Linked DNA regions of Homo sapiens. The protein of the gene in region 1 interacts with the protein of each later gene in a pairwise test. Each region holds a gene or a part of one and is shown in the gene's direction. Other genes may lie near its edges.

Region 1 (3,500 bases):
TGTATGTTTAAAATTCTCCGTAATAAAATGTATTTTAGCAACAACAAAAATGAGCCTTTCTAGGACCATGCAAAAGCTTCTCATTAACTCTTTCAGGTAACAGATTTCAGAATATAAAAGAATTCATCCAGGGACTTCAAAGTGTTTACCAACATCCTAAATTGAGCCATTTGTTCCCTGTCCCTCATTAATCCCTTCTTGTGTCTCCTGCTCAGGGAGTTGAGGAAAAGATTCTTTTTTCTCATGTACAGAGGAGACTCAGGGCAGGATGTTACTGGAAGTTATACACATGAACTAACTCTTGGCCCACTCATCATGGAGTTCAGGTTAACCCAGCCAGGGTGTCTAACTGGTAGTAATTTCATTTTGATGTTTTCTTTCTCCAGATTGTGGATGACTTTTTCATTGGCCGCTATGTCCTGCTGGCTTTCCTTAGTGCCATCTTCCTTGGAGGCCTCTTCTTGGTTTTAATCCATTATGTTCTGGAGCCGATCTATGCCAAACCACTGCACTCCTACTGACCACTCTTCAGGAAAACGAAAACCTGTTCTCTCCTTCATTGTGATGACATTGATGAGCAGGAAGGCACTATTCAGAGCCTTGTTTTGACAGCCCTCATGCCTTAAGGTTAGAGGAGTATCTGTCCATCACTAAGACAAATCTCTGGAGTCCTGGCTTCCAGAAACAGGATTGCCAAATTGTCCCTGTGGGGCTAGATTCTTACCAGCTTAAGAAGGATATTGCTATCTTCTTAGTACCCGTACCTTAGGATTTCCAACTGTTTTGAAAGGGAAATAGTAACAGTGATCTGCTTAGAGTGGATTTTCACTCAAGTCCTTAGTAAGTGGATTTTGGGGAAAAAAGCACCTGGGCTTCTGGTTCTTTTTGATAATATATAAAATTATTCATTATGAGGTTGCAGTTGTTTGCAAAGGAGAGGCACTCAAATTTGAAAGGTTATTTTAATGTGATAATTTGGAAGACTTACTCAGATGTTGGTCATTGACCACTCTGTGCATATATTTCTGCAGAGCTCTGTGAAGGCAATGAGTGTCACTTCCCTCTGCTCTAATAAAGCAATAAATAATAGCTAAAGGGCTGACTTTCACTTCGAACTCTTGGCCACGGCTTTTTAATCAAGTTCTTTAGGTTTCCTTGGGATTAGAGGAAAGGTATGGAAATATTGTTTTTTGTTTTTTGTCTTGCCATGTATCTGTAGGTTTTTTTCTTCCATGATGTGGTGGGCTGTGTGTGCCTTATTTAATTACCATGAGTCCATTTTGGGGTGTCTTCACTTTTCATCTTTGTAGCCCTTTCTCCAAAGCTAGTGAGGAAGGTATATTCTCAACATCAGATATAACTCTATACCTGTCTGATCTCCCAGACCAAATGAAATTTGCATTAAATGGAGGGGCCCTGGTCAGGTTCCACTTTGGAAGTCTGATCCTGACTCCCTAGAGCCATTTGAAAAAGAATCTTCTGGCTTAAAATTAAGAACCAAGAAAACAAGTTGGAAAGAGATCACTGATGGAGTATGTGCTCTATGCCAATAGCACACTAATTCCTTTGAGGTTTAATTTATTTAATTTTTACAACGGTCTCATTTTTATCATCCCCACTTTAAAGTAGAAAAAATGGAAGCTTAAAGAGATCAGCTGACTTGCCCAACCTTCACCTAACAGCCAGTGTGCAAACCCAGGTGTGGTAGGCCCCAGGGCTTGTCTCAGAGAGAAAACACACTAGGGTTTGTGGAACTCTGATTGAGAGCTTCAGGTAGGTTAAGGCCACACTGTTCCTTCACTTTCTCTCCTCAATTCTGTTTTCAGGGTAGAGAAGTTACCCAGTCCTGCCACCCCACAGGCAACTAAGCTCTAAATTCCAAGAAGAGAGAACAGGTAACCACTGAGAGTCATGGGCTGGTGAGGGCCAGGTATAGTTATCCCTACATTGAACCATTTCCTTTATCTTACTTAGTTTGGAAAAACTTTGCAGATAAGGCTTTGTACAGAAAACTTCAAAGGAAATAGTTTCCTAATCTGGCCTAGGGCACACAGGTAAGAAAAGAAGAAACATCCTCTAAGCAGATTGAGGGAGAGAAAAAAGAATGCATAAGTCTTGAGGGAATTGAGACAAGCTGGGGGCCTCATGCTATTGTGAGTCTCCCTGCAGCCCAAGTGGAAGCTTGGCTCCTAACAAGCACAAGCTGCCAATTGTTACCTTCTTCTGAGAGCCTTGCTAAAAAAGTAACTCTGGGAAAACTCTTATAGGTTCCTGACCATGAATCCATCTTTTTTATTCCCCCCAAAAGTTATTCAACTATTAGATCAATGGATAATAACTATGAGGTTTTGGGTGACTATTTAGATGGAGGAAAGTGTATTAAGGTTGGAAACTAAATTCTATCCTTAATACTACTGTTTTCTAATTTTTGTTTTTTTGCCTGATGTAAATGAAAGGCATATATGTTAAAGATTGGCTTTAGGAAAAAAAAAAAAATACCCTGTGCAAAGTTTATTTCAGCTTGACTTGACCTACAGTCTACAGACCTGGAGTCTATAATTACCAGCTGTGGTGAAATGAATGATAGATTTCTTTCTACCTGCATACTCAATGCAGTTATGCAAAAAAAGCCCCGCAGGGTTGGGATAAGACGTAGAAGGCTGAGAGGGCTCAAAATGGATTTCACTGAGAGTTTGGCATGGGATAACCCTATAGTCAATGTCTGTTATGGTACCCTGTATGCTCATGGCCTTCTTGGAGACAGGGCTCAGAGGTCATTCCTTAAATACAGACAGAAGTCATCTTAGTGTTCAGAACCATTCTGTGATCAGTGGCCTTAGAACATGTTCCCTCTACTGTTCCCTACCCAGAGGGGATCCTGTGGCAGACTGGTGATCCCCACTGTTTAGAAGGTGGAGAGGGAGAGTAAATCTGGGTTTCTATATAAGAAAATAGGTTATTTCGTGGCGTCTTAAAATTGTATCCTGACAAAAGCTGAATTAGGAGGATACCACCCTATCCCCACAATGGAGATCACAATGGGTAATTTGTTAAGTTCCTTAAATTTTTCACTGATAAAAATGGAAGTAAAGCTACCATTCTTTGTGTACAATGTAAATTTAATGTAAAACTGCATCAGAATTACCATACCAATGTCCAGGGACTAGGGAGTACATAGCCATTCATTCTCGAATCCTGCCATTCATTCAGCATATATTGTGTGCCCGTAGGGTGTAAAGCACTAGTCCTGGTGGAGTAAGCCCATGGAAGAACTAGGCTGTAAGGTGTCTAGACTGTCTTCCTCACTGCTTCCTGGAAGGAGGGCATCCAATTTATTTTTAAATGTTTTTATTCTAACATAAAGCAATCCATTTTTTGTTCTGTTATTTAACAGAAACTTTAGTATCAACTCTATTTCATGGTTGTTGCAGTTGAAGTGTTTCTGGTTTATTTTTTGCTCAATGTGTAAAGAAACCTGCTGTGATTATTTTACAGATGAG
Region 2 (3,500 bases), on another chromosome or scaffold:
CACATGTCACATCAGTGTCAATGATCAATGGGAAGGAGATGTATATTTCTCCCACAGTGAAGCACTGCAAGCCGTGCAGCAACAGGTAGAGACATCTAATCTTTCAGAGAGGGAAGAGAATAATTGGAGGCAATAATATAATCCACTATGCTAACTATGTGACCTTAATCAACTTTATGCCTTGCTTTCCCTATCATAAAATAATAACAATAAGAGTAATAATAACAACATATACCTCAGAGATGTTATGAGGATTCATGTGATAATGTAAGTAAAGTTCTTAGCACAGGCCAGGAGCGGTGGCTTACACCTATAATCCCAGCACTTTAGGAGGCCGAGTCAGGTGGATCCCTTGAGGCCAGGAGATGACTTGAGACCAGCCTGGCCAAAGTGGCAAAACCCCATCTCTACTAAAAATACAAAAATCAGCCAGGTGTGGAGGCACATGCCTGTAGTCCCAGCTACTCAGGAGGCTGAGGCACAAGAATTGCTTGAACCCAGGAGGCAGATGTTGCAGTGAGCTGAGATCACACCACTGCACTCCAGCCTGGGTGAGAGGGAGACTCTGTCTCCAAAAAAAAAAAAAAAGTTCTTTGTGCAGTGTCCAGCACAAAGTAGGCACTTTAAAAATAGCAGATGTTTTTATTCATTTATTGCAATGTGGCATTAACTTCAGTTCTTGATGAGCCTGTGTATACTGTATTAATTAGAAAGTTCTTGAAACAGAAAATATCTAAATCTCACTAATTTAACAAAATAGAAGATTTCTTTCACATAAATCTAATTGGTTGATGCCGTACAAGGACCCAGGCTGAGGGACACTTTGTCATCTTTAGTACATGGCTTCTAAGATCTGCTGAGTGGTGATATCCAACTAGCAGACAAGGAAAGAGGGAGAGTAGATGATTATGTAGAAGATTTTAATGATCCGGGCCTAGAAGTAATGTATATCACTCCTATTCATATTCTATGGTCATACCTAACTGCAAGAGCAGCTGCAAATTGTAGTTCAGCTCTATATCCAGGAGGAGGGAAACTGGTAGGGTGAACACACTGGAGTCTTTGGTATGCATGCCCGATATAAATGTCTGGCAGCAAAGAAATACAGCTAATGTGAATCAGGATAGAGTAAGGCAGAGGAAATGATTTGTCCCAGTGGTGAAAAGATTCCTGGTAGAGACAATATTTCCTGGTGCCCTTGAATCATTCTTTAGTGGTGTATTTTTTTAAAATAAATTAGTTGGGATATGTTGACTTTTGGAGTAGGTGTAGATGATTCTTAACAAAAGAGATGCAAATACATATTGTTTGATTTCTGTTAGCTGATCTGTTAAAGTAGACACAAAGGAGAAAAGCCAACTTCACAACCCATGCTCAAAAGCAATGTTCTAATCTTGACAATTACACCCACATTGTGTCTAAGAATGCTGAAGAATTAGATGCTGTCTTCTAATATCTGGCACTTGCTGTTGACTAGCAATTTGCATTTTGTTTTAAATCCCCTAAATGTCCATAGGCTAGATACATGCTGTAAGTTTAGGTTGAATTAGTCTACTAATAGTCATTGTTTTCCTGAAAATAGACCATGTAATTTGTAAGCAGTGTTTGAGAACCTCTGCTTCCCTCAAGGAGAAAACTTGGAAACTAAGTTCCATACCTTTTCACTAGAAGCAAAAGAACAGCTTTAATGCCAAACTTACAACCTAGAAAAGAGAAATGTCAGGGAGAAATATCTGAGAAGACTATGAGAGGAAGAACCAGAAGAAACAGAGTGGTGATCCATAATACTTCCGGTTCTCTTACATCGTTTCCATTTCCCTAACTCAGATATCACAGCCACATACATTCATGCAGGGGAAAACATTATCAAAATGAAACAGTAAATACCAGTAATGCATGTTAATCCTTCCATGGGGCAGTAATACTGGATTAGAAAACTCTTGACCTCTTCAAATATCTTGCCATTCCAAAGTAAATAATGTCTCATAGTGGAACTTCTGTTTAATGAAGAGAATGTTTTTGAGGACAGGATTTATTTCACTGCCACATTCAATCATTTCAATTTAAAAGGGATATAATCCAACAATCTATGTGCAGAAGGGAATAGGCAGGACAGTACCTGAGTCCAAACCATGTAATATTAGAGTAGATGAAAGAATTAGGAGTGTTTTCCCTGGAGAATATGTGGGGGAGGAGGCATGATAGTTGTTTTCAGGTATCTTGATATTTGAAGATGAAGGAAGGATTATAATTGTTCTGCTGGGCTCTAAGGGATAAAAGTGGGACCCAGCAGTGGAAGCTACAAAGTGACATATTTTGGTTCAATATAAGAAAGCATTTTCAGTAGTCAGAGCGGGGCAGAGGTAATGTGATCTGTCTTCTCTGCATTTACACAGCTCTGAATTCTTTGTCACTAGAAGCATAAAGAAGCTGAGAGAGCTAGGAACTGGGGTTGGAGTGTATGTATTTCAAAGTCTCTGCAACACAGAGCACTTCTAATGGCTATGAGAGAAGCGATGCCCTTCAGGCTCAGTCAACAAATCAGACTGGACCTCACCACTCTATGGGGCCATTGCTTTATGACTGAGGGAGCCATCATTTCTCTATAAAAAAAATGAATCACATTTAACCAAAAATGATATCTCAGTCCCTACACGAACCTTGTGTCTATGAGAGCAGGTCTGGAATGCAGTAATCATATGACTAAGCAGCATCACATGACTAAGAGGAAGGGTACAGGACTCACTGCTCATGGAAAAGCTTTACCCTTGCTTTTTGTTGTCAACACACTACCTTCAGTCAAAAGACAAGGAATGAAATCTCTCTTCGGAGGTTTTTGCATCACCTTACAACATTTTCAGAGCCAAGACTCCATGACGAGTTAGGCAGAGCACACTTCAGATTTTTAGACATCTCTAACGTGCAAAATATAGTGCTACTAACATATAATTCCTCCTCTCAAGAAATCTAGTTTCAATAATGGCAACGAATGGGGTAGATTCCTTCCTCTTCAGCTGTCTCCCAAGGTCTCACCAGTCAATACCCTAAACATATTCACCCTCTTAAATTTTCATTAGCCCTCCTGGGGTGGCTGGGCCCACAGTAGTAAAGCATATAAAGAGAGGGCAGAAAGAGGACGGCAAATAAAGAACCTATGACATTATGTGTTGTCATTGGAAGAGAGGCCGCATTAGGTGGCCCTCTTTTTTAATCAGCACTCAAGGAGTGTTGGGCCCAAGCCCACACTCCACATGTCTCCTTGACTGGCCACTGTTGGGGGTCTCTGTGGACAAAAGGAGGCATCAGAGCTGATGAAAGTCAGCTGAGGTCAGTGGTTCCCATAGTGTGTCCCTGAACCAGCAGCAGCATCACCAGGGAGCTGGCTACAAATGCAAATTCTCAAGCTCACCCCCCGATCTACTGGATCAGGAACCCTGAGGACAGGGCCAATCATCTGCCCATCCCCTCCAGGGATTCTGATGCACTCTAAAGGGTGGGAG
Region 3 (3,654 bases), on another chromosome or scaffold:
GGGGTTGTATCAATTTCTTAGATGGGTAATGCCTCCATGCTGGGGCCTCCCAGGGGATGAGGAGCAGGACAGTTTGCTCCTTTGCCTCACACAGGCGAGCCCTGGGAGTGCTGGGAAAGAATTTGCTGAGGAGCCAGTGTGAACATCTGGTCTGCAGTTGAGTCTTGTTACCATGGATAACTCAGCTGATTCGTCCATTGGTCTTTTTTATGTGTATGTGGTGCTTTTTTTTTTTTTTTTTGAGACGGCATTTCGCTCTTGTTGCCCAAGCTGGAGTGCAATGGTGCGATCTTGGCTCACTGCAACCTCCGCCTCCCAGGTTCAAGTGACTCTCCTTCCTTAGCCTCCCCACTAGCTGGGATTATGGGCATGTGCCACCACGCCTGGCTAATTTTGTTCTTTTGTTTTTGTTTTTTGAGATGGAGCCTTGCTGTGTCACCCAGGCTGGAGTGCAGTGGTGCAATCTCTGGTCACTGCAACCTCTGCCTACCAGGTTCAAGCAATTCTCCTGCCTCGGCCTCCCAAGTAGCTGGGACTACAGGCATGCACCACCATGCCTGGCTAATTTTTGTATTTTTAGTAGAGACGGGGTTTCACAATGTTGGCCAGGCTGGTCTTGAACTCCTGACCTCAAATGATCCACCCGCCTCGGCCTCCCAAAGTGCTGGGATTACAGGCGTGAGCCACCACACCCAGCCTAATTTTGTATTTTCAGTAGAGACGGGGTTTCTCCATGTTGGTCACGCTGGTCTCTAACTCCCAACCTCAGGTGATCCGCCCGTCTCAGCCTTCCAAAATGTTGGGATTACAGGCATGAGCCACTGCGCCTGGCTGTGGCTCTTTTTTTGATGTGATAAGAACACTTAACAGGAGATCTACCCTCAACAAATTTTAAGTTAACTCCATTAGTCTTTTTCTTTTTTTTTTGAGACAGAGTTTCACTCTTGTTTCTCAGGCTGGAGTACAGTGGTGTGATCTTGGCTCAGTGCAACCTCTGCCTCCTGGGTTCAAGCGATTCTCCTGTCTCAGCCTCCTGAGTAGCTGGGATTACAGGCGTCCGCCACTATGCCTGGCTAATTTTTGGTATTTTTAGTAGAGACGGGGTTTCACCATGTTGGCCAAGCTGGTCTTGAACTCCTGACCTCAGGTGATCCGCCCGCCTCAGCCTCCCAAAGTGCTGGGATTACAGGCGTGAGCCACCCTGCACCCAGCCAACTCCATTACTCTTTTTCAAGTTTGCTTATTGGCAGTCAGCCCCTTGGAACTTCAAAATTAAGGAACAGATCCTGGGCTATGATGCCCTCTACCCACACCACAGGTCCAGCCCAATGTCCTGAACAGGTCCTGCTCCTTCCTTCTGACACTTTTTATTTTTAACTCCATAAGGCCTGAGCTTGGGCTGAAACAGAAACAAAATGTGCTTCATCTGATGTTCTGCTCTGTCTATATCCACAGTTTAATAACGGCGCAGGCTTTGGAGTCAGGCAAGCCTTGGTTTAAATCCTCAACTTGCCTTAGTTTATGTGACTTCTTTGAGCCTTTGTTTCTTTTACGCAAAATGGTGATAATCCCCTTCTTGCAGTGTTGTGAAAACTGAGATATGTACACAAAGCACCTAGGCCATGGTATGTGCTTAATAAATGGTGGCTGTGCTTGGTGTTACCTGACTCTCTACTCATCCTTTGGGATTTGGGTGCCTGCCTGTCCGTCCAGATGTCCTTGAGATCTCACGAGTTCTCTTTGAGTGCAAAGACCTCATTCTCATTATCAAACCAGGCTGGTCCCAGACCTCAGAGTTCAGGTCTTCATGCTGGAATCCTGGGAAGCACTGAACGTGGAGTCAGGAGATGTGGGTTTGAGTCCTGAGATTTGCTGTGACTTCATCTGGAAGATGGGGTTTTGATACCTTTTTTAAAGGTATGAAATGATGATGATGGAAGTGTTTTGTGCCTAGAAAGGCATTTGTTGCATCTCAGGCATTCTTTTCATTCTGACCACCCAGATCTGACCCTGGCTGTGCCCATCTGTAACTCTCTGGCTATCATCTTCACACTGATTGTTGGGAAGGCCCTTGGAGAAGATATTGGTGGAAAACGTAAGTTAGACTACTGCGAGTGCGGGACGCAGCTCTGTGGATCTCGACATACCTGTGTTAGTTCCTTCCCAGAACCCATCTCCCCAGAGTGGGTGAGGACACGGCCTTTTCCCATCCTGCCCTTTCCTCTGCAGCTGTTTTGCTTCCTTGTGGCCATCAGAGTTCCCTTCCCCTGGACAGTCTGGAGAAAGACAGAGGCTGGGGTTTGGGATTGAAGACCAGACCCCATCTGAGCCCTTCCTCCAGCCCTGTACCAGCTCCTACTGGCATGGCTGAGCTCAGACCCTCCTGATTTCTGCCTATTATCCCAGGAGCAGTTGCTGGCATGGTGCTCACCGTGATAGGAATTTCACTCTGCATCACAAGCTCAGTGAGTAAGACCCAGGGGCAACAGTCTACCCTTTGAGTGGGCCGAACCCACTTCCAGCTCTGCTGCCTCCAGGAAGCCCCTGGGCCATGAAGTGCTGGCAGTGAGCGGATGGACCTAGCACTTCCCCTCTCTGGCCTTAGCTTCCTCCTCTCTTATGGGGATAACAGCTACCTCATGGATCACAATAAGAGAACAAGAGTGAAAGAGTTTTGTAACCTTCAAGTGCTGTTCAGCTGCGGGGATTTAGCACAGGAGACTCTACGCTCACCCTCAGCAACCTTTCTGCCCCAGCAGCTCTCTTCCTGCTAACATCTCAGGCTCCCAGCCCAGCCACCATTACTGTGGCCTGATCTGGACTATCATGGTGGCAGGTTCCATGGACTGCAGAACTCCAGCTGCATGGAAAGGGCCAGCTGCAGACTTTGAGCCAGAAATGCAAACGGGAGGCCTCTGGGACTCAGTCAGAGCGCTTTGGCTGAATGAGGGGTGGAACCGAGGGAAGAAGGTGCGTCGGAGTGGCAGATGCAGGAAATGAGCTGTCTATTAGCCTTGCCTGCCCCACCCATGAGGTAGGCAGAAATCCTCACTGCCAGCCCCTCTTAAACAGGTAGAGAGCTGTGAGCCCCAGCCCCACCTGACTCCAGCACACCTGGCGAGTAGTAGCTGTCAATAAATCTATGGTAAACAGACAAGAGGTTAGTAAGTATTCTTTTATTGTGACAAACCCTCTCCCAGGCTTAGTCAGCTACTCCTTTCTCTGGCCAGAGAATCCCATAAGGAAATAGCCCCCACAGCCAGGGCTGCTCTGCTCAGAGGAAGGGAAGGCTGGGCTGTGGGTTTAGGAGCAGGAGAACGGGGAGGGCTGAGGAGGCCGCAGTGTACCCTGTGAGCCCAGCGGAGGTGCTGGCTCCTGAGGAACAAGCTGCTGGAGGCTAAGGACAAAAGGTGGCCAGAGTAGTGGTCCCCAGTTGCCCTCTGGAGCTGCTGGCTCTCAAGATGGCAGAGCTGGGGCTGAGGCTGAGATAGCAGCCCCAGCCCCAGGCTGGTTTTCCAGGGACAAGGCCTCTTCCACTATCTGTGCTGCCCTCTGCAGGAGGTGGAAGGCCATACAGAATGGAGCCGTGAGTATGGCCAGCCTCCAGCTCTCAGCCAGGAGGTCCCCAACCCCAAGGAAGGAAGAAACTGGAAA
Region 4 (3,500 bases), on another chromosome or scaffold:
ACTCAAAATGTCACATATATTACCTCGTGACGATCTCTTGATACCATTTTATACAGAAGGTGTCTCAAATTCACACAGCTAGAAAGTGACAGAGCTTGGATTCAAATCCATATCTACCTGACCCCAGACTCTATGCTTGAAGACGCTGTCCTCTGATTATAAGCACAAATGTAAACTAGCATTTCATTGCTAACATTTTATGTCTTCCCTCCTATAGATGCTTATAGTAACAACAGTTCTTCTGGTACTGGAGAATAATAACAACTATAAATGTTGCCAGAGTGAAAACTGCAGCAAAAAATATGTGGTAAGAGCAACAGTTTTTTTGAGGATGGTTGAGTGGGCTCCAGCTTTCTTTCCTCTCACTCAGAAACACAAAAATATTGACAGTATTATACCCTCACTACTGTTGAGTACAGTACAGAGATCAAGAGTTTACTGCCAAGATCATCTTCCATTTTGCTTAGTCTTTCCTCCACTTTTGTTCTACTGATGCACTTTCAGAAAATCAGCATTTAAAGATACCTAAAATTAGGAAATAATACTTTTTTTTCCTAACTAAGTTTCCATTAGTCTATTTTTTCTTTACAAACTTTATTGAGGGCTAAATTACATATAATAAGTGGCATCCATTAAAATTATGCAATATCATGAGTTTTAACAGTTGACTACACTCATGAAACCACCATTGCAGTCAAGATAACAGAATATTTCTGCCAACCCCCAAAGATTAACCTTTGATTTACTTTTTGTCATTATAGATTAGTTTGTATTTTATATATGTGGAATCATACAATATTTGTCTTTTTTATCTGGGTTTTTTCATCCAGGATAATAATTTTTAGATTCATCCATATTGTTGGGTGTATGTGATGTGCATTTTCTAAGTTGGCACTTGAAAAATAATTAAAATAGTATCAGGGTGAATAATACAACCGCATTTTCTAAGCCAGTGCTCCTGCATTTCTACCATTCTCCTTCTCATCCTCTTCCTCCTCTTCATCGTTTATTCACACTTGCATAGCACTTTATAGTTCTTTCACATTTACTCAGTGAATTAAGTCATTATTGCTCCTATTTTATAGATGAAGCACTTGTGGCTCAAAGAGAACAAGTGATTATTAGCTAGGAGGAGTTTTATGATGATATCTGGTAGGCATTTTTTGCAGCAGTGCTTCTACCTGTTAGCTTCATATTGCAATCACCTGGGAGCTTGGAACAACACTAATGCCTAAATCCCATCCCCAGAGTCCCTGATTTAGTTAGTCTGAGGTACAACCTGGGCATGGATATGTTTTAAATCTCCCCAGGATATTTCAATGCGTAGTCAAGATTGTATGGCAAATTTTCTTTGACCAATGTCTTTTAAAAATTAAATTCGTTGCTTTATTTAGTACTGTGTCCCTTATGGAGAAGAATTGAAAATTTAAAATACACTCGTGTGTGTGTGTGTGTGTGTGTGTGTGTGTGTGTGTGTGTGACCAGTTGACTCAGTCATCCTCCAGTAGCTACTTGTAATATACTTATGGAAGAGATTTCAAAATTGCCTAGGGGAAATAATAAATTCAGGTATAGATTCAAGTTATGATACTCAGAGAATTTCTAGAAAACAAATATATGTGATATTAAGTGTAAAATAAAAATTCACATGTTCAATTTGCCTTAACTCACTATTAGCACTTCTAGCACAAATAGATGCTAGAAATAGTCTGAAAAGGGTCTTATAATCAGCATTAAATTAGATGACTAACATCTCATTGGGAACAGCAGGAGAAAGAAAGAGAGGATTCTCCGGGTTCCCTTTTTGGCCTTTTCAAGGTAAGTTCTAGAAGAGAAGTCCCAATTCAAATGCCCCCAGAAGCCACGTGTGTGACATAAATGAATTAAATGAGCCTGGTAGGCATCAGAGCACAATTTCCATCTAAGGAGGAGAAGGAGCTGCTACTGAAGTCCAGCCAGTTGTTGCCATGATCAAGTAGGGCAATAATTCTCAGTTTTCAGTAGAAAGTAAAAATATGGATTTTTATGTAAAACTTTTCAATTGTAAAATATTGGCAATTAATCTTCATTTAAACCAAACAAAGTACATATTGTGGGAAAAACTGAATCTGCATCAGTTTGTAACTTCCAAAATGTAATAAAAATTGATTCATTTCTTGGTTGTTATCTGCTATGGCCTGAATGTGTTCCTCCAAAATTCACATGGAAACCTAATTCTCACTGTGGCGATATTAAGAGGTGGGATGTTTTTGGAAGTGACTAAGTTATGATGGCTCTTCCCTCATGAATGAGAGTGGTGCCCTTATAAAAGGGGTTGAGGGGAGTACTCTTACCTCCCTTGCACCATGCGAGGACACATAGAAGGTGCCATTTATGAGGAATGAGCCCTCACCAGACACTGAATCTGCCAGTGATCTTGGACTTTCCAGCCTCCAGAAGTGTGAATAATAAAATTCTGTTATTAATTACTCAGTCTAAGGTATTTTTATTATAGCAGCAGGAACTAAGGCACTCTCCATTCCTGCATGGAGTCTGGTTTTCTGCCAAAATTCTTGGACAATTATTCCTGGAAAGCAAATATTGGCCAAATAAGGGCACTTGAAATAATAGCTAATATTTTATTATATTTTATTTTTGAAATTGCCCTGTCACATAGGTACCATTCCTGTCTACATCATCTACAGTTTACAGAAAAGAAAACTATGATTCAAATTCTTATTCCCACTTTATTTTGAGGCTTACCTTGATAGTGCAATGGTATCCACTCATTAGATTGTAGTGTGTGCGTGTGCATGTGTGTGTATGCTATGGCTGCCAGTTTCCCCCAATGAAGAAATTCTTCACTGATCTTCCCAGTGAATATTTTTTCCAGTTTTCCATAAAGAGGATATATTAATGTCATACTCAGTGAAATAATTTTAAACAAAGAAATGTTATTGAGATGATTTTTATTCCTAAAATCACAGGTTTGTTGGTCTTACTTTTTCTGGTCTCAGCTTTTGAATTTATTATCAATTGGTTACTGCATGTTACTATTCTGCTGCCTACTCTCACCCTGCAATCAACATTTCTAAAGCTAATTTTTCCCCCAAACCAAATAACCTTTCTTGGTATCCTTATTTCTGTCTCCTTTTTATCCAAGCCCCAGCTCTGGATTTTTTTTTTTTTTTCATCTCCAGCTACTCATTTCCTCCTTAATGTGTTTTCCTCCAATGTGTGTCTTTGTCACCTCAACTTGCATCTGTCTCCAAGCTGGATCCTTATCTTTGAGGTCTCTTACTTCCAGCTTGTGTGACCACTGCCAGAGCAATCTTCCAAAAGCACATTTTGGGCATATCACTTCCTGCTCAAAAACCAATTACAAGACTTGTTTAAAAAATAGTTTCTGGCCGGACACAGCGGCTCATGCCTGTAATCCCAGCACTTTGGGAGGCCAAGGCAGGTGGATCCCCTGAGGTCAGGAGTTTGAGAGCAGCCTGGCCAACATGGTGAAACCCCAT
Region 5 (2,520 bases), on another chromosome or scaffold:
GACACTGATATTGCAGATGGTTAAATGGGAGGGCAGAAAATGAATGCACAAGTGGATCTATAAATGAATGATCCATTGGGAAGCATCTGTGCATGAAATCTATTTTTTGTTTGTTCTTTTGTTTATTGAGACAGAGTCGCCCTCTGTCTTCCAGGCTACAGTGCAGTGTCACGATCTTGGCTCACTGCAACCTGCGTCTCCTGGATTCAAGTGATTCTCCTGCCTCCGCCTCTCGAGTAGCTGGGATTACAGGCAACTGCCACCGTGCCCGGCTAATTCTTTTTGTATATTTTTTGTAGAGAGGATGTTTCACCACGTTGGCCAAGCTTGTCTGAAACTCCCAACCTCAAGTGATCCGACCGTCTCAGCATGCCAAAGTAATGGGACTACAGGCGTGAGCCACTGTGCCCAGCCAGAATTCAAAATCAATAATAGATAATGCTGAGTGTATGATTTCAGGTGACAAAGAAGGTCTCACTATTCAGATATTTGTGACATTAATGAAAAACACGGATTGAACCCCTGAAAGATTGGCGGAAGGATTTTGCACACACAGCTGTCAGCCGTGAAGGCACAAAGGTGAAAACAATCTGATGTGGAAGGAAGAGGCTCTGCCTCAAATGCTGGGAATGATGTGGGGAGAATGACAAGACGACTGTAGAGAGACGGAGAGCACACTGGGTACACAGGAAACTAAGGAGCAACAAGGAGTGTGTGTTTGACACTCACAGCCATTGGATTCACCTCGGGGTAACCAGGAATCCCTACATGATTAATATGACTGACATGAAAATAAGGGAGGCTCAGTTGCATAACTGGAATCTAGGAGACCGTGGAAAAGGCAATTGCCACCCCACTGGTGAAATGTGGTGCTGATTTAGACACTAAATGAATGAAGTAGATGGATATAAGATATGTTTGTGAGGTAGAATCATTGACTGGAAACGCTTACTGGGTTTGATTTTCCTACTTGTTTAATCCTCGCTTAATTAATTTCTTTCTGAGATTTATTCATCCTACACATAAATCAATACCTGGCAAAGGAGTGACAGATATATGAGTGGTGGTGGAAATGAAGAGACTTATTATAGCATAATATACAAGTCTGTGAACAGTGGCTCACGCCTGTAACCTAGCACTGCAGGAGGCCAAGGTGGGTGGATTCCATGAAGTCAGGAGTTCCAGACCAGCCTGGCCAACGTGGTGAAACCCTATCTCTACTAAAAATACAAAAATTAGCCGAGCACGATGGTGCATCCCTGTAATCCCAGCTCCTATTCTGGAGGATGAAGCAGGAGAATGACTTCAACCCAGTAGGTGGAGGTTGCAGTGAGTGGAGATTGCATCACTGCACTCCAGCCTGGGGGACACAAGGAGACTCTATCTCAAAAAATAAAAATAAGAAATACATAAATATAATAAAACACACACGAATGACAAAGGCACCTGAATTCCAATCATCGTTTTTCTATTTCTCTATAATTACTTCTTTGATCCTTTATCTTATCCATTAGGCAATGAGCTTAAAACCTCTTCCCTATTTGGCTTTCTGTGAGAATGAGATCACATAGAAAATGTGAAAGCCCTCAGAATCCTCCAGCACAGATCGTGGAATAGAGAAAGTGCTCTGTTCATCGCAACAAAAAACTTGCCCACTCACCCAAATCCCCCACCTCACCCCTACTTCCAATCACCTGTGGAGATTCAGATAGGCTATGGGGAGGTAAACATTGATACTCCTTGGAGTGAGTCCAGATCTTGGAATCAGAGATCAGTGCCAGCACTAGCTCCTGCTCCCCTTTCCTACTAATTCACAGGAGGACAGGTGGTATTGAAGCAATAGATGGCCGAGGGGGTGGTCCTTCCCCCAGCCTCTCGGGTAGAACAGCAGCCTAACATGTGTCTCCCGAGATCACAAAGAGTAGCACGTTTCACACGGGCTTCAACACTATTTCCTGGCCATTTGACATAAGAGAATTCTACTTAGCTTTTTTTATCTTGATTTCACTTTTGTTTCCTTTTCTTGGAGAATGCAAGTTGTTTGATTCAAGAATGCTGTGGATGTAGAAATCCTAAAGCACATTCGCTGTGTATCAATCCCAGTGCAGTCTTCCCAGAGAAGACTCTAAATACCTCCTGGACTGCACCTGGGCTTATGCCAATTCCTATCACTCACCGTCACTCCAGGGAGACAGAACACACAGAGAATACATTACACAGGCAGGTTCATTACTAACAGATAAGCAGCGAGTGACAACAGAAACCTACATTTCAATGTGAGCCAGTCCCTCAAGGCTCAGAAAAGCTACTCGGGACATATGGAGTCACCCCATTTGCAGTGTAGCTGGGGGAAGCCAGAGAGCAGCCCAGCCTGGGTTTTGTACTGTGGAGCCACAGGAAGCACTCAGCTAAAGCACTGCATGACGTCCTCCTCCAGGAAGAACAGGAAGACAGCCCAGGCTGTTCTGAGACGTTCCTCCTGATCTCAGGACGTTGCTGTCTTAGTCCATTTTTGTTGCT
Region 6 (3,500 bases), on another chromosome or scaffold:
GCTGGCTGTGGCTTCTCCCTCCCCCATCCCCTACTCCCCATCTCATTTCCTCCCAAGTTCCTTCACTGTCCCGGCTTTGCGTCAGCCAGATTGCTCAAGCAGTTCCCCTGCCTCAAGGGCTTCTTTTCCCTTTTACCCTCCGCCTCTGCCTCTGGGGGAAGCCCTTAGTGTACCACCCCTGCCTTGAGCTTGTGGTAGGGGTGCCTTTGGGGTCTGACTCTTCCCAGAATGCCACTCCTGTGTTCCCCTGCAAGCCCCAGCAAGTTTTGCAGCCAGTAGCGCCTCAGTTGCTGCTGCCTGGATTCAACCTCATAGAAACTGTAGGCTGGGTGGGCAGGAATAGTCAAGGAAGGCTTCCCGGGAGAGGCGGCCCCCAGAATTTTTGACTTGGCAGAGAGAAGTTGGGGAACATCAGCAACTGACCACCTTTAGCTGGGCTGTGCCTTCCTCCTTTCTCTCATCTTTTCTGGGAAAATTGGGTAAAGAGAGGGGGTTGGGAGACCTAATCTTGATGGCCATTGCTTACCTGGGATCCTCATGCCCCTCACAACCACCCAGCTCCCTAGCTCTCTCCCTCTCCCCCACCCCCTCAGACTTCGAGCAGGAGTCGGGCATTGAGACAGCCATGCGCTTCAGCCCAGATGTAGCCCTGGCGGTGTCCACCACACCTGCGGTGCTGCCCACCACGAACATCCAGCCTGTGGGCACACCATTTGAAGAGCTCCCCTCTGAGCGCCCCACCCTGGAGCCAGCCACCAGCCCCCTGGTGGTGACAGAAGTCCCGGAAGAGCCCAGCCAGAGAGCCACCACCGTCTCCACTACCATGGCTACCACTGCTGCCACAAGCACAGGGGACCCGACTGTGGCCACAGTGCCTGCCACAGTGGCCACCGCCACCCCCAGCACCCCTGCAGCACCCCCTTTTACGGCCACCACTGCTGTTATAAGGACCACTGGCGTACGGAGGCTTCTGCCTCTCCCACTGACCACAGTGGCTACGGCACGGGCCACTACCCCCGAGGCGCCCTCCCCGCCCACCACGGCGGCTGTCTTGGACACCGAGGCCCCAACACCCAGGCTGGTCAGCACAGCTACCTCCCGGCCAAGAGCCCTTCCCAGGCCGGCCACCACCCAGGAGCCTGACATCCCTGAGAGGAGCACCCTGCCCCTGGGGACCACTGCCCCTGGACCCACAGAGGTGGCTCAGGTGAGGGTGTTGAGAAGGGACAGGGAGGAGGGCGGAGGAGGGTGGGTCAGGGGAGGGATGAGGAGGATGGGGCTGGACAGGACTGAGGACCAGGAGGCTATAGAGATGAGCCAGACAAAGTGGGGGCGAGGGGCAGGACCAAGGGACAGAGATCGGATAGGGAGGGAAGAGGGACAGAAAACGAGGGCTGGGGTGGTTGGATCCTAATGGGATGGGACATTGGTGGGGAAGGAATTGGGTGAACGTGTGCATTGGTGACAAGGGGGGCCGGGCTGAGTGTTTCGGTTGAGAGAATTAATTCAGTGGTCTGGCAGCTGGATTAGAATCTTTCCACTGCCACTTCCTAGTCACGGGACCTCAGGCCAGTCCCTGATCATTTCTATACCTCCGCTTCCTCATCTACGGAAAGGAGAAAACAATAGAATGTGTATCATTTCATTGTGAGCGTGAAGTCTCCTGACATCCACAGTGCTTAGAACAGCGCCTGGTGATGGTACAGCCAGTGGGTTCTCAGCTGCTGTCGTCATCACGGTTGTTATTATCATGGGTCTGAGGGTGGTTAAGAGCTGGTGTATGAGAAGGCATCACTCGCCTTGTGGAGGGCTGCCTGGGTGTGGGTCAGTGCTCAGCACTTTACCTGTGTTAGCCCCAGCCCTCATGCCCACCCCACGGGCAGCACTGTGGTCATCTCATTTTACAGACGAGCAACTGTGGGTGCACAGGGAGGTGAAGCCACTTCCCAAGGCTCCGCAGCCAGCGATGACAGTCAGGATTTGAACCCAGGCAGTTGGTGCCAGAGCCGGGCAGTCTCGCAGGGCCAGGGCTGCATGTGTGTGCATTTGGGATATTCTGGATGGGGCAGGGGAATTGATGGGAAGAGGATGAAGATGTCAGGAGTGCCAGGGATGGATGAATCCCAAGGACATGAGAGAGGTGGTCTGGTCCCAGCTGGGTGCACTAAGTAAGATGGAGAGGTGGGAACATGGACTGGGTGCCAGAGCCCTCTGCAGCTGGCCTCACTGTGGAAGGCCCTTGGGCCGTGGCGCTGCCTTGGGGTCAGTGTCAGTCCCTCTGACTCCCCAGCCAGCTCTAGCAGGATGCAGGCCCTTCCCTTGCCTCCTCAAGCAGCTGGGGCAGCCTGGTGTTTTCACACAGACTTGGCCAAGCAGGAAGGGGAAACAGTGATGGGGCACGGAGCCCAGGAGAAGGTGCACAGGGCCCAGGTTGCTGGAGGAGCCATTGTGCACGCTGTGTACGCTGGGGCACTGCTGCAGCCTCTTTTCAGCCTGGACATCAGGCCTGCCTTTCCATGCCCACCTTTGAAGTAGCGACATCCCTGCTCTGATGGCTCCCACAGCCCCCACTTTGGTCTCATCATTCCCAGCTCTGATCCTGCCTCCGAGTGGTGGGAGCCCTAGAGATTGTCAGTCACTGAGCTGGTTTCCGGGACACCTGCCCCTGAGGCCATCATAGTCTGCAGGTTGTGCTCTTGGACTGGCCTCCAGGCTACAGAATGCTCCCCTGCCTTAGGCATGGACTGGGACCAGGCCCACATCCATAGCATCTGCACCCAGCAGTTCCCAAACAGCTTCTCGGCAGGAATCCCCCAAGGATTGTTACTAAGGCAGCTGGAGGGGACATGAGGGGGACAGGATGTCCAGAGCAAGAACAGAGGCAGTGTGTTAGTGGTTAGAAACACAGACTGTGGAGACAGATAGATCTGAATTTTAGTTCTGTCCCCCACTTACTAGCTGTGTGTCCTTGGGCAGGTCATTTATGCTCTGAGCTGACTTCCTGCTCTGTAAACTGGGGGCATTGTTACACTCCTTCATGGGGATAGTGTGTAGCACAGTGCCTGGCATGTAGGGAGTGCTAAGTGTTAGCCCCCCAGGGCAGTAGGATGGTGGTGGGGGGTTATGCATGCATGTGTGGTTGTCCTGGGCTCATGCCACCCTCTCTGCAGACCCCAACTCCAGAGACCTTCCTGACCACAATCCGGGATGAGCCAGAGGTTCCGGTGAGTGGGGGGCCCAGTGGAGACTTCGAGCTGCCAGAAGAAGAGACCACACAACCAGACACAGCCAATGAGGTGGTAGCTGTGGGAGGGGCTGCGGCCAAGGCATCATCTCCACCTGGGACACTGCCCAAGGGTGCCCGCCCGGGCCCTGGCCTCCTGGACAATGCCATCGACTCGGGCAGCTCAGCTGCTCAGCTGCCTCAGAAGAGTATCCTGGAGCGGAAGGAGGTGCTCGTAGGTGAGGCTTGGGGTCTGGGCCAAGGGGAGCCTGGGAGG
Region 7 (3,500 bases), on another chromosome or scaffold:
CCTTAAGTTCCTTACTGCAAAAATGGCTGTGATAAGACCAGCCATACATAGGCTTCTTTTGAGCTTGAGAACATGGCCTTCATTATGCATTTCACCTATATACTCCTTGAGGGCACCTAGTTATTCAGTAAATCATTGGTAAATGAGTGATTGAATAAATAAATGAAAATACAAAAGTCCTTTACCTGACCTTGGGTACATTGATCTGAGCTTATTGAATGTAGAAGTGACACTTTATACTTTGATGCTAAATTCAGTTTATCTTACATCCCACTCTGCCCTCTATGTTCTGCCTAATTTAACCATCTGCTTTCTGAGGAATATGATTTCTTTCTTTTTATTAATTTTTTTTAATTGAGTTGGAGTCTCGCTCTGTCGCCCAGGCTGGAGTGCAGTGGTGTGATCTCAGCTCACTGCAACCTCCACCTCCTGGGTTCAAGTGACTCTCCTGCCTCAGCCTCCTGAGTAGCTGGGATTACAGCTGCGTGCCACCATGCCCGGCTAATTTTTATATTTTTAGTAGAGACATGGTTTCGCCATGTTGGCCAGGCTGGTCTCGAACTCCTGACCTCAAGTGATCCGCCCACCTCGGCCTCCCAAAGTGCTGGGATTACAAGTGTGAGCCACCGTGCCTGGCCCTATTTTTTTTTTAATTTTTAAAATTTATTATTATTATTTTTGAGACGGAGTTTTGCTGTTGTTGCCCAGGCTGGAGTGCAATGGTGTGATCTCTGCTCACTGCAACCTCCGCCTCCCGGGTTCAAGTGATTCTTCTGCCTCAGCCTACCAAGTAGCTAGGATTACAGGTGTGCACCATCATGCCTGGCTAATTTTGTATTTTTAGTAGAGATGGGGTTTCACTGTGTTGATCAGGCTGGTCTTGAACTCCTGACTCACCTCAGCCTCCCAAAGTGCTGGGATTACAGGCATGAACCACTGCATCTGGCCTTAATTTTTTTTAGAGACAGGGTCTTGCTCTGTTGCCCAGGCTGGTTTTGAACTCCTGGTCTCAAGCAATCCTCCTGCCTTGGCCTCCCAAAGTGTTGGGATTATAGGTGTGAGCCACTTCACCTGGCAGAAATATGATTCTTAAATTAGGATTAATTTTTGGAGCCTTGTTTTAGAAATGATTTATTTTTTATGAATGAGATATGACTGTCTGAGAATACTTGGATGTGATGACTTGAATAATTTATGTGTTGGGCCTCTGAGAGTATAAAGTTCATACCAGAATATTTTTGGGAAGAATTTGGTTGAAATTGCTAGATTTTTTTAAAGGTACAAGATAATTATGATTGTATTCCCTCTCAGATATTGAATTCTTTCTTTCTATGGTTTTCTAGAGAATGAAGATCTAGAAAACAAGGATACCTCTTTATTGGCTTCTGCCACCGATCCAGAACCCTGCTCCTCACCCCACAGGTAACCACTTTGGATAGAATGCTTTCACAGGTTTTATCTTCTGAGATGAGGAACTGGTGAAAGAAATAGGTAGTGACTTTAAGCGGGGAGGCAAGTTAAAGTAAAGAATGTGGGCCGGGCGCAGTGGCTCACGCCTGTAATCCCAGCACTTTGGGAGGCCAAGGCGGGTGGATCACGAGGTCAGGAGATCGAGACCATCCTGGCTAGCACAGTGAAACCCCGTCTCTACTAAAAATCCAAAAAAAAAAAAAAAAAAAAAAATTAGCGGGGCGTGGTGGCCAGACTACACGCCTGTAGTAGCTGGGACTACAGGCGCGCACCACCACGCCTGGCTAATTTTTGTATTTTTTAGTAGAGACGGGGTTTCATCATATTGGACAGGCTGGTCTCGAACTCCTGACCTTGTGATCCGCCCACCTCGGCCTCCCAAAGTGCTGGGATTACAGGCGTGAGCCACCGCGCCGGGCCAGGGATTTAATTTTTAACTTTTGTTTCTAACATTTGCTGAGTGAAGATAAAAATCCAGTGAATGTGATGCCTGAGGCTTACTTCTTATGCTTATGTGTCTATTGGAAATGGAAACGGCACAACTTTCTATCTTTTCTAGTGAGGCTGGCTTGCCGGCCAGGCTCTCCCCTTCCTTTGAGATGGCCTCCCTGCTCCAGGTCAGTACAAACCAGAAGCTTAAAGCGGAGGCTTTTCCTTTATGTGGCTTATCACCAGCATCAAATAATTTGAAATTAATCTTTCCCCAAATGCCCTTTTCTAATTCTCCAGAGCATAAAATGCTAATTGTGAATATTAAATTTATGTGGGTGGCACATATCCTGTTTAACATAATTTTATTATTTAATTATTTCTTGAGACAGAGTCTTGCTTTGTTGCCCAGGCTGGAGCACGGTAGGCAGTCATAACTCACTGCAGCCTCAAGCTCCTGGACCATGCAACCCTCCCATCTCAGCCTTGTGAGTAGCTAGGACCACAGGCATGAGCCACCACACCGAGCCTTAAAATATGTTTTTTAAATAAGCAGAACCATGTTTTTTCAGAGTAGCATGCACAAAGACAAAGAGACAATTTTAGATGTCACACACAGTAAGTCAAGCTAATGATTCAGATAGCCTGTTGTAGTCTCACCTTTCCAATATTATAAATGATAGTCTGATCCAGAATTTCTCTTTTATTCCCAGGCAAAAATTAACTTATTCATTTTTTATTCAACAAATATTTTGGGGCTAATATTTATTCAACAGATGTTTGTTGGGAGCCTACCATGTACCTGATACTGTTCTAGGTACTAAAGAAACCACAAATGAACAAAATAGTCCATCACTGCTCTCAGGGAGCTTATGTTCTAGTGGGGGAAGTGGACAGAAAACAATTACACATCATACTTCACAGACTCTTAAGTTGCCGTCAACTGTAAGTTGTGCTTTCACGTCCCACCAAGAGAGGAAGAAATGCTTAAGATGGATCATCTAATAGACCCCCCATATGCAACTGGGATACCAAAAACCTGCACCTTCAGTGAAAATATAAAGACAAAAATCCCCCACACAGAAAAGGACAGCAAGGAAGCTTGATTGTCTCAAACTTGACACTGTGTCATAGGAGGAAAAAATATCTCCCCTGAGAATAGGAACCACCAGTTGGTATTAGCCAGTGTCTTGTCTAAATTCACTCTGCCAGGAGGATTAAACAAAACCCTAAACAGAGAACTTAATTTCAAGAAGTCTCAGATTGGTAGCATTCCTAAGTACTGGCAGAAGCAAATGCAAATCTCTCGTGGAAAGAGTTGATGTCAATCCAGGCCCACGGCACTTTTAAGATATCATCAATTTTTAAGACATCCTATCTTTCAGTTGTGTTAAAATCTAAAAGCCAGTGTGCATCTTGCAATCAACAAAATATGCTCCATATCATGTCAGGCAGTAATAGGTGCAGTGAAGAAAAATGAAGCTGGGTAAGGGCAGAAACAGTGACAAGGCCAGGAAGGGGCACACATTTTATATACAGACCTCTGAGAAACCTCTCAGCAGAAAACCTGCAGGAAGGAAGTCTTCAGTTAACTAAAGAAG

The links.
Region 2: the proteins of TMEM218 (region 1) and KCNJ6 interact in binary tests that used the Homo sapiens proteins (3 or more experiments, as listed by UniProt).
Region 3: the proteins of TMEM218 (region 1) and TMEM234 interact in binary tests that used the Homo sapiens proteins (3 or more experiments, as listed by UniProt).
Region 4: the proteins of TMEM218 (region 1) and TM4SF18 interact in binary tests that used the Homo sapiens proteins (3 or more experiments, as listed by UniProt).
Region 5: the proteins of TMEM218 (region 1) and KIR2DL3 interact in binary tests that used the Homo sapiens proteins (3 or more experiments, as listed by UniProt).
Region 6: the proteins of TMEM218 (region 1) and SDC3 interact in a two-hybrid assay, tested with the Homo sapiens proteins (one large-scale study listed by BioGRID).
Region 7: the proteins of TMEM218 (region 1) and TMED8 interact in binary tests that used the Homo sapiens proteins (3 or more experiments, as listed by UniProt).

The regions. Positions count from the first base shown.
Region 1 is NC_000011.10:125,094,627-125,098,126, reverse strand, and holds part of TMEM218 (transmembrane protein 218), read left to right. Parts: intron 1-386; coding exon 387-521; 3' UTR 522-3,500. UniProt on the Homo sapiens protein: May be involved in ciliary biogenesis or function.
Region 2 is NC_000021.9:37,906,458-37,909,957, reverse strand, and holds part of KCNJ6 (G protein-activated inward rectifier potassium channel 2), read left to right. Parts: intron 1-3,500. UniProt on the Homo sapiens protein: Inward rectifier potassium channels are characterized by a greater tendency to allow potassium to flow into the cell rather than out of it.
Region 3 is NC_000001.11:32,215,700-32,219,353, reverse strand, and holds the end of TMEM234 (transmembrane protein 234 isoform a precursor), read left to right. Parts: intron 1-1,776; exon of another isoform or gene 1,777-1,917; intron 1,918-2,002; coding exon 2,003-2,095; intron 2,096-2,229; coding exon of another isoform or gene 2,230-2,387; exon of another isoform or gene 2,388-2,406; coding exon 2,407-2,501; 3' UTR 2,502-2,836; coding exon of another isoform or gene 2,837-2,944; 3' UTR 2,945-3,154; downstream 3,155-3,654. Other genes in the region: DCDC2B (doublecortin domain-containing protein 2B), read right to left, coding at 3,457-3,552.
Region 4 is NC_000003.12:149,327,137-149,330,636, reverse strand, and holds part of TM4SF18 (transmembrane 4 L6 family member 18), read left to right. Parts: intron 1-217; coding exon 218-307; intron 308-3,500.
Region 5 is NC_000019.10:54,748,513-54,751,032, forward strand, and holds part of KIR2DL3 (killer cell immunoglobulin-like receptor 2DL3 precursor), read left to right. Parts: intron 1-2,520. UniProt on the Homo sapiens protein: Receptor on natural killer (NK) cells for HLA-C alleles (HLA-Cw1, HLA-Cw3 and HLA-Cw7). Inhibits the activity of NK cells thus preventing cell lysis.
Region 6 is NC_000001.11:30,874,259-30,877,758, reverse strand, and holds part of SDC3 (syndecan-3), read left to right. Parts: intron 1-593; coding exon 594-1,207; intron 1,208-3,170; coding exon 3,171-3,462; intron 3,463-3,500. UniProt on the Homo sapiens protein: Cell surface proteoglycan that may bear heparan sulfate. May have a role in the organization of cell shape by affecting the actin cytoskeleton, possibly by transferring signals from the cell surface in a sugar-dependent mechanism.
Region 7 is NC_000014.9:77,349,595-77,353,094, reverse strand, and holds part of TMED8 (protein TMED8), read left to right. Parts: intron 1-1,343; coding exon 1,344-1,422; intron 1,423-3,500.